Linked DNA regions of Homo sapiens: region 1 is linked to region 2. Evidence: fine-mapped expression QTL. A gene starts in region 2. The other region holds a variant in brackets. All regions are shown on one strand. Distances are between the middles of the regions.

Region 1 (4,394 bases), 29 kb after region 2:
TTCTCAGGAAACATGGACAGTAGACTCTCTAGGGCTAACAGTGAGTTGACTCTGGACTGCTATGTGGTTTGGGGCTGGGGAGTTGGATGTGATTTGGAAAATCAAGTGTGTAAAAATTGACATGAAATCCTGAGTTCAAAATAAATTTATTGAAATGTTCAACACAGACATGTGCTTTCAGAGAGAATAGAAACCCTTTTTCACAGTTTATATACCTCAAGATAGAAGGCTAACTAGTTGAAGTGTCCTCAGAGCCAATGATCAGTCCTTAAAAAGCTCCCACACATCCCGGACTTAACAGACTCCCAGAACTGGCTGGGACTCCAGGAGGTCATGTAGTCCATCCCGCTGCCTCTAGGCAGGTAAGAGAAGAGCAATATCTTAGAATTTGTGGTAATAAATTTGCTGACCTTTCTTTGTTAAGAGTTTCTCCTGTTCTTGAAGCTGTAAGGATTGATTTTGAAGCAAACCTGTTGGAAAACACAAGGAACTTGTCTATGCTAGCATATTTACTACAAAAAGTTTTCTTTTCAGAACTTTGCTTAGAACCTTGGTTATTAAATATGTTCCCATCTGCTGTGTGTTGAATTTTGTCCCCCAGAATATATATGTTGAAGTCCTAACCCTCAGTACCTTAAATAATGACCTTATTTGGAGATAGATTCTTTAAAAGATAATCAAGTTAAAATGGGGTCATTCAGGTGGGCCCCAATCTAATATCACTGGTGTCCTTATAAGAAGGGGAAATATGGACACAGATATGTTCATGGGAAAGACAATGTGAAGAGACACAGAGAGAAGACGGCCATCTACAAAGCCAAGGAAAGAGCCCTGGGATAGATCTTTCCCTAAACGCCCTCAGAAGGAAACAACCCTGCTGACATCTTGGATTTCTAGTCTCCAGAACTGTGAGACAATACATTTCTGTTCTTCAAGGCACCCAGTCTGTGGTACTTTGCTATGAATATAGCATCCTTATATCTCCCCCTACCATGTCTCTATCTTCAAGTCTTTGCTTGAAGATTTTCCCTTTTCCCTGTGGTTGCTTTGCTCTCTTAATAATCATTGCTGCTTTCATGAAGCTTCTCTATCAGGTGTCAGAGGTTAAAGTGGTGGGCAACCAGCAGCTGTATTAATTGAGTCAGGTTCTCCAGCTTTTCAGAAACTGCTTTTCTTCTGAGAAGTCCCTTTTCCTCTTTGGGCCCAATATGTAGTTTTGAAGTGGATTGAGGCACGTATAGTGTAAGCTTATTTTCTAAACCATCTCTAATGACAGGTCTATGTGACACATTCATGTACATAAATTAGAATATATAAAATAAGAACTGCTTTAGGAAACCCAGTATTTAAAAAAAATCTGCAGTTCTAGGGGAAATGTAAGTGGTGTCATTGGCATGGAAGGAGAACAGTAGAAAAAAAAGAACAGAGGCTAACACATAATTTATGGAGAGCTATGTAAATGACCTCACTTTACAAGAAGAGGGTCTGAAAGTGCACAGAGTTAGAGCATATGCCAAAGACTGGGCCCTTAGTCCCTACTCTGGGTGCCTTTTGTGGGCCAGGACCCCAGGAAAACCCTGTGGACTTTCAGAATCTGGAAAGCGAACTTACCCTGCAACTGCTGTACTCTGGTCACCAGGGTGAGTTTCTCTGCCTCTGACCTTTTTAGTTGATCTGAAAATGCAATAATGCAAGCCAAAATAAAGGAACCCAAGACTTAATGAACTCAGTACTTAGGATGGAAATTAGTAATAGATGCTGTCTTGTCATGGTCTTTAACGTGTGTCTATTGGAAGTTGCTCTATCTTCGTGTCCCAGTTCTGAAGAGGTAAACCAGAAGCCAAGTACCTCAGGTTTTTGTGCATCAACAATGTTGGGTTGCATTGAGGCTTGTGTTTACACACTATCTAGTCCTCTCTATCAGCGGACACAGAGGATGTGACTGAGAGACTTTCTCTATGCCTTGTGTTTCAACTGACCTTTCCCTTTCAAATTAGGACTGTGGCCTTGACATATGTGACTGATGTGGGAGCAGCTGTGATCTGGCCCAGAGGGATGGGCTAAAAAAGAGAGCTCAGACAACAAGATACTCTATCTACTACAGTGAAATTAATTTTCAATTTTGGATGATTAAAACAGTCCTGCCTCTCCCTCAAGGTAAAATGAGATTATAAAGCCAATCAACCAATCAAGCAAACAAATAAAAGGCTGAAGCCTTTCTCTTAATTCAGTTTCTTTTTTCTTAGCTCACTTGGCCATGGCTGCCATGCACTCAAGGCCTCCAAGGAGAAGAGTACCTTGTAGGTCCTGGGTATCCAAGCTGCACAGGTCTCTGTCCCCTTGCAGGCATTCAATCTTGGCCTGCAGTTGCTGGTGCTCATTTTCCAAAAATCGCAGGGCCTGGTTCATCTGTAAGTCCCTGCTATCTGCTCCCTGTAAGGAGGAGGA[A/G]GGGCCAATATAGAAGGAGGTCAGTGTTGGGGTGGAGGTTGGGGGGCGGGTACCATGGAAGAGGAAAATGTAGAAAAGTCTGGAATTTTAGAGATAGAAGGAATGTTAGGGAGATGAGAAAATAGAGAAGTCTTTCTTTTTTCCTATTTCTTCCCTTTGCTTTGTTCCTCATATTTATAACAGCAGATTAGACTTTTGATATTCACAAGGAACTCGCGTCTTTTATTTATTTATTTTTATTTTTAGAGATGGGGTCTCACTTTGTCACCCAGACTGGAGTGCAGTGGTGCCATCATAGCACATTGCAGCCTCGACCTCTTGGGCTCAAGCAATCCTCCCATCTTAGCCTTCTGAGTAGCTGGGACTACAGGCATTTGCCAGTAGTTTTGAAGTGGACTGAGGCATGTGCAGTGTAAGTTTATTTTCTAAACCATCCCTAGTGACAGGTCTAAGTGACACATTCATGTACATAAATTAGAATATATAAAATAAGAATTGCTTTAGGAAACCCAGTACGTTAAAAAATCTGCCATTCTAGGGGAAATGTAAGTGGTTGTCATTGGTGTGGGAGTCATGTCTTGACACTTTGGTAAATCACCAAATTAAGGAATACAAAGTCATTAGTTTTCTGGATGTTTTCATTTTCTCTTTTTTCTACTTCTGGCAGTATCAGTTTTTTTTTTGGTTAGGGTCTTTTTTTTTCCACAAAGATTTAAAGTTAAAAAACCCCTCACAAAAATCTTCATAGGAGTTGCCTTATAGGTGATGGGAAGAAGAAAACAACAAAGGTTGAGCTGTGGATACCACGCAGAGTGACCAGCTGGGTTCACTCCTTTGATAAGACTCACATACTCTGTCTCTTATCAAGTGGGCTGTTCTGAGCCCTGCTTCAGGAAAATTACAAAGATCAGCTTTTGAGGTGGATCCTCAAAATTCCAAACCAGGTAAATAAATCTATGCAAAATAATAGCTAATATTTACTGAGTGTTTTTGTGTGCCAGGCATTGTGCTAAGTGCTTTACATGGATCATCTTACTTAATACTCAGAACCACCTTATGATGTAGGTACTATTATCCTCATTTTAGAGATGGGGAAACTGAGGCTTAGGACAGATTGAAGATGATGGAACCCTTGAGGATGCCAAGAATCTAATTGTAATTGCTAAATGTAATTGCTTAAAATACACATTGGCAGAAAGTGTTAATACTCACCTGTAAATAAATTAGTGACATTCTTTCTTTGCCAACAGTGGGCAATTCTGAACTGGATGCTTTTTTGGGATGGAGTTTGGAGAGTGGGTTGGGAGATGACATTAGTAGGCTGATGAATATTCCAGCCAGTTCTTTTCATTTGGGTGGTGATGGTGTCATTCCAATGAACGCTTAGTTCATTTGCATGAGCAATGCAGACATCCTTGCTAAACTCAAAATTAGATTTCAGAGCCAAAACAGTGAATTTGGTACAAAGTAGTGGTGACTGAGGAACTGAAAGCCAGATGCTGTCAGCTGCCTTTGGAGTCCCTAATCCAGAACAGCTTCTTTCATCACCATCCCTCCTCCCCATACCCTGTCTTCCCTCCCCACCCCCAGTGCCTGGTACCTGCAGTTTGGACTGAAGCACGTGGAGTTGGCTCTCCAGCTCCCTGTGCTGGGTCCCAAGGGTCCTCCAGTCCTCCTTCAGAGCCTCATACTGGCTCCTCCACTCTTCACACTTCTGCTCTGCCAGGGCCAGGGATCGCTGAGGGAGATCAGAGAGGAGAGGGCTCCAGGGAGTTGTGCAGCTGGCTCCCCTTGTTCCCCAAGCTGCCTGGAGTCCCCAGCCCCATGTCTATGTGGCATCCCCATACCTGTGTGCTCTGTAGTTGCTGCTCTGCATTCATTTTCTCCTCCAGCACTTTCTGCAGTGACTCCTTGGCCTTCTGCTCATAGCTGTTTTTCTGGTCTTC
Region 2 (4,394 bases):
GTATGCCACTGGGGTTTTGACTCCCCTCAAATGACACTCTCCCAATGGCCTTACCCCTCATCCCTCTCATACACCTGCAGTGGAGCTTGTTTGGTCCCCAGAGCCCAGCCCTGGGCCAGATGGAAGATGCTGTTTGTCTAGTGAGCTCATCAGCAGTAAACAGCTAGCTGTGCTGATGAGCTTGCCCTTCCCCCAGTGAAGGGAAGAGTGGCCACAGGGCAGTGGTTGAGACAGAGGCTGGCTGAGTCAGGCCTTGGGGCCTTGCTGCCTTCCCAGGCCTTTGCTGGCTACATTCCAAAGCTAAATTGGGACTTGGAATCATGCCTACATTATTATCAATCTGGGGCTCTTCAACACACTTGTATGAGTATGCTAGGGCTACCATAACAATGTACCTCAGAGTGGGTGGCTTGAACAACAGAAATTTTTTGTTTCATAGTTCTGGAGTTTAAAAGTCTAAAATCAAGGGTCTGAGGGATGTGAAAAAAAAAAAAAAAAAAAGAGCTCTATTCCAGGTATCTCTCCTTGGGTTGCAGCTAGCTGTCTTCTCTTTATGTCTCTTCATATCACCTTCCCTCTGTGGGTATCTGCCTCTGTGTCCAAATCTCCTCCTTTTATAAGGACACCATTCATATTGGATTCAGGCTCACCCTAATAACCACGTTTTAACTTGATTACCTCCATAAGGATCCTGTCTCCCAATAAGGTCATATTCTGACATCTGGCTGTGGTTGCAGTGGGGGTGGTCAGGACTTCAAAATACAAATACAAATTTTTTTGTATGTGGGTGACAGTTCAACTCATTGTACCACTCCTCCACAGTTTCTCACTCATTACTTTAAACACCAAAACCTAAGTGACCTGCGCATGCCCCATTTCACCTACGACAGCTCAGTGGTTGAGGGTGGGGGATTTTTAAAAGTCTCATTTACTGTTGCACAGCCTCCTGCAAACCGGTCCTCTAGATAGATGAGGAAGGTGAGGGCAATCTCATCAAGCACCTGTTAGGGTACATGCAGGACTTGAATTTCAGGTAATAACAAGGAATGCCTTCTTGTTCTCTGACGCACTGTCTATATGGTATTTTTAATCTTTATGCCAATAATAATTGCAAGTACATATAAAGCACTTGATAAGTGCTAAATATTGTTGCAAGCAGTTTACATGTAGTTATTGAATTCCCACAATACCCCTGAGGTAGGTACTATTACTAACCTCTTTCTACAGATAAGACACCAGGGCCTAAAAAGCTTAAGAAACTTTCCCAAGTCTGTAGTAACTGATGGAGTTGGGGTCTAAACCCCAATAGTTGGCTCCAGAGGCTATGCTTTTACTCATTACACGATAGTGATCAGAGGAAGCAGGAACTCCAGTCTGGGCAACATAGTCAGACCCTGTCTCTAAAAAAAAAAAAAAAAAATTAGCCGGGCATGGTGACCCATGCCTATATTTCCAGTTACTTGGGAGGGTGAGGTGGGATAATTGCTTGAGCCCAGGAGGTTGAGCTATGATTGTGCCACTGCATTCTAGCCTGGATGACAGAGCCAGACCCTGCCTAAAAAAAAAAAAAAAAAAAAAAAAAGGAATTGAACTGGGTGCCAGTGCCTGTAATCCCAGCACTTTGCGAGGCTGAGGCGGATCCCTTGAGCCCAGGTGTTGCAGACCAGACTGTGTAACTTAATAGCAAGACCCCATCTCCAAAAAAAAAAAAAAAAAAAAAGGAAGAAAAAAGAAAGAGAAAAAAGCAAACAACAACAAAAAAGAAGGAAGGAATTATTATTCTCATTGAAGAGATGAGGAAACTGAAACCAAGAAGCCAAGAAGCTAAGTAACTTACCCAGGGTCACACGGGTAAGAGGCAGAGTAAAGGTAGAATTCTAGTCCTGAAAGCCTATGGCTTCTCCCAGACAGGACCAAGTGTCCTGGTTCTCTTCTTCATGTGCAACTCCACTTACACAGGCCCACGAGTAGTAGGGCCAACCCAGAATCTCAAAACCCTTATTTGTGCTTAACTGTCTGCATACTGCAGGGTAATTATGGGCCGTGAAGGAGGGAGGCACCCTCTCGACTTAGATCTGAACTCCCAGTCGCTTCCAGTTCCCAGGACCACCAGCCCTGAGCCGTAAGGCTAGGCCTGAATCTGGGACTTTCTTAGCCGGAGTTAGAAGCGGAGGAGTAGGGTGGGACGCTGGACGGACGCCGCTGGGCCGGGCAGCCCAGAAACGCGGAGTGTCATATTTCTTGCAACTCGCCAATCCCGAACGCCGGGGGGCGTGGCCACACCTGGGAGGCGTGGCCGGGCGGATGCGAAGGCTGCGGCGTCCTGGGGCGAGGCGCTGACGTGAGCTCGGCGCACCTGGGCTGGGCAGGTAAGGGCTGGTGCGGGACGGGGAGAGGAACCTGCAGTCCCTACTTGGGTAGAGCCAGGCGCCCCTTGGCTAAGACGTCGAGGAGCGTGGTAGCGACGGGTGATCTTCGCTGCGGACTTGGTTCGGAGGGACGTCCGCTTCTGGTGGACAGATTGAGCAAAGGTGGGTACGCCAACTTCTGGGGACCAGCTTGAGGGAGGAGAGGCTCCCCCGTGGGTGGGGTAGGACCCATCCCCGGAGTTTGTAGGGGGTGAGAGAACTTGCTTGGGGGCATCTGTGTGTTTGGGGTGGGTACCCACTGGGGCTGGGTGCCTGTCGCCCTTTTCCAGATAGCTTTGGGGCGGCCTCAGTTCTGTAGCGCTAGGCCCCTCTCGAATCTACACTTGTGTCTACTCTCCCTACCCCCACCGCCGAAGCGGAGGGCACTGCTCTCGGCCGTCAACAACCCCACTATCCGGTAGAGCTAAAGCACCGCGCCCCCTTCAGTCTTACCAACTTGCGGCTGGCCCCTGTGTCCCAGAGAGGGGACTTCCCAGGTCCGCAGGTCCTTGATCCTAGTGGGCGTTTTGGGAAACTGGAGTGAGGGTGGCCAGGAGCTTTGGAGCATTGGCGGTTTGTCTTCCCTCCCTGAGTCTGTTTGGCACAGTTAGGCCCTTCGCCCTGGGCCTGGGAGACAACCTTGGATTTCCAAGGAGCGGAGCTAGGTGCTGGGGAGGGTGGCGCTGGGGTGTGGTTGCTCTGGGGGTGGGCCCTCTTTGCCCGAAGGGGCTGGAGGGTGGTGTGGAGAATGGGGAAAGTCTCCCAGGCCTGACTTGGAAAGGAGGCCTGAGGTGTCACTCTTTACAGGGAGCCTGCTTTGTGGTAAAGGGGTCATCCTGTTCCAACCTGTTCTCTTGGTGGATGTCAAGAGTGGAAGTCAGGGAAAAGAGATGGATAGAGAGAGGAAGGCGCTTGGGTGGGATTGGTGAAAGCTGGTGTTGACCCAGGAGTGTGGTTTAGGATGAGACGTGTGTATGATGTATGACAGTGGCACTCAATACCTTGTAACTCCCATTCGCCATCCCCCAGCTTCCATCCAGCAGAAGGGAAGGGTGTGGGCATTTTGACTAGAGGCCTGCAGTTTACCCCTAAGCAGGGCTAAACAGGGAAGCCTGAGGAACGGAACTTAGACGATGGCATTTCATTTCTTTCAGGAGAAAGGGAAGAGCTGGGACTGCTAAGAATTGTCTGCGAGAAATGGCGTGTGTTTTAACCTGAGCAAAACCACTGACGGCCAAATCTCGGCTTTTGTGTGGCAGTGCCCCTGGAAACTAGTCTGGGGAGGAGCTATGGAGGTGGCAATGAGGGTGTTTATGGAGGACCTGCTCCCTAGAATAGGGGTATGGGAGAGGACAGTTATGCTCGGAGGAGGCTGAAAGTGTCCCTCCTCTATGCTCACTGTGAGGGGAATAGATAGGTTAGCATCATTGTCCTTTGGCTGTTTAAGTACCTGTTAGAGACACAGGCCTTACATTTTGCTGTGATGGCAGCTAGAGATACCAAGATGAGTTCAACTAGGCTAAGGTGGTTCTTCAGGCGTTGGGATTTGGGTGGCAAGAGTGTTTAGAAAGAGAACTCTGATTTAGGTGTGTTTGAGAGTGGATGTTATGCAGTCTCCACCTCAATCACTTTATTGGCCCTCTATGCTGCTGGGATCTTTGTTGATGTTTTTAGTTTACTTTCTTGGTGCGCAGAAGATGAGAGGGACATGGAAGACAAGGTGCAGTGGCAGGGTTTGGTACAGAACACTGTGACTTAGGAAATAAAGCACCTCAGCCCAGATGTAAAATGGGGATAGTAATATCACATTCAGGTTTATGAGGATGAAATCAGACATGTTAGGTAAAGGTTCATGTAAAAATTGTAAAGCCTACACAGATACAAAGGATTGTTGTTACCATCCTTCATAAGAAATGTCTTATTGTCCTGAGGTTAAGAAAAAATTACTTGTAGTTTTTTAAATTATAAATTGAAACATATCATTGT

Evidence for each region. PIP is the estimated chance that this variant, and not a neighbour inherited with it, causes the effect. A credible set is the group of variants that fine-mapping cannot tell apart.
Region 1: its variant is the best candidate, but not a certain one, in a credible set for the expression of IRF6 in lung (TOPMed, PIP 0.73).

What each region holds. Positions count from the first base shown.
Region 1 is chr1:209,775,391-209,779,784 of GRCh38, reverse strand. It overlaps TRAF3IP3 (TRAF3 interacting protein 3), which reads right to left. Exons shown (of 17, transcript NM_025228.4): 10 at 4,296-4,394; 11 at 4,049-4,186; 12 at 2,298-2,433; 13 at 1,612-1,674; 14 at 411-470. It overlaps C1orf74 (chromosome 1 open reading frame 74), which reads left to right. Exons shown (of 2, transcript NM_152485.4): 2 at 1-577. Among named protein-coding and RNA genes, the nearest start is that of C1orf74, 7.0 kb to the left of the region's middle. RefSeq lists a silencer at 1,715-1,915. The variant A/G (reference allele first, on the strand shown) is at 2,449.
Region 2 is chr1:209,804,084-209,808,477 of GRCh38, reverse strand. It overlaps IRF6 (interferon regulatory factor 6), which reads left to right and starts at 2,336. Exons shown (of 9, transcript NM_006147.4): 1 at 2,336-2,531. RefSeq lists a silencer at 2,071-2,414.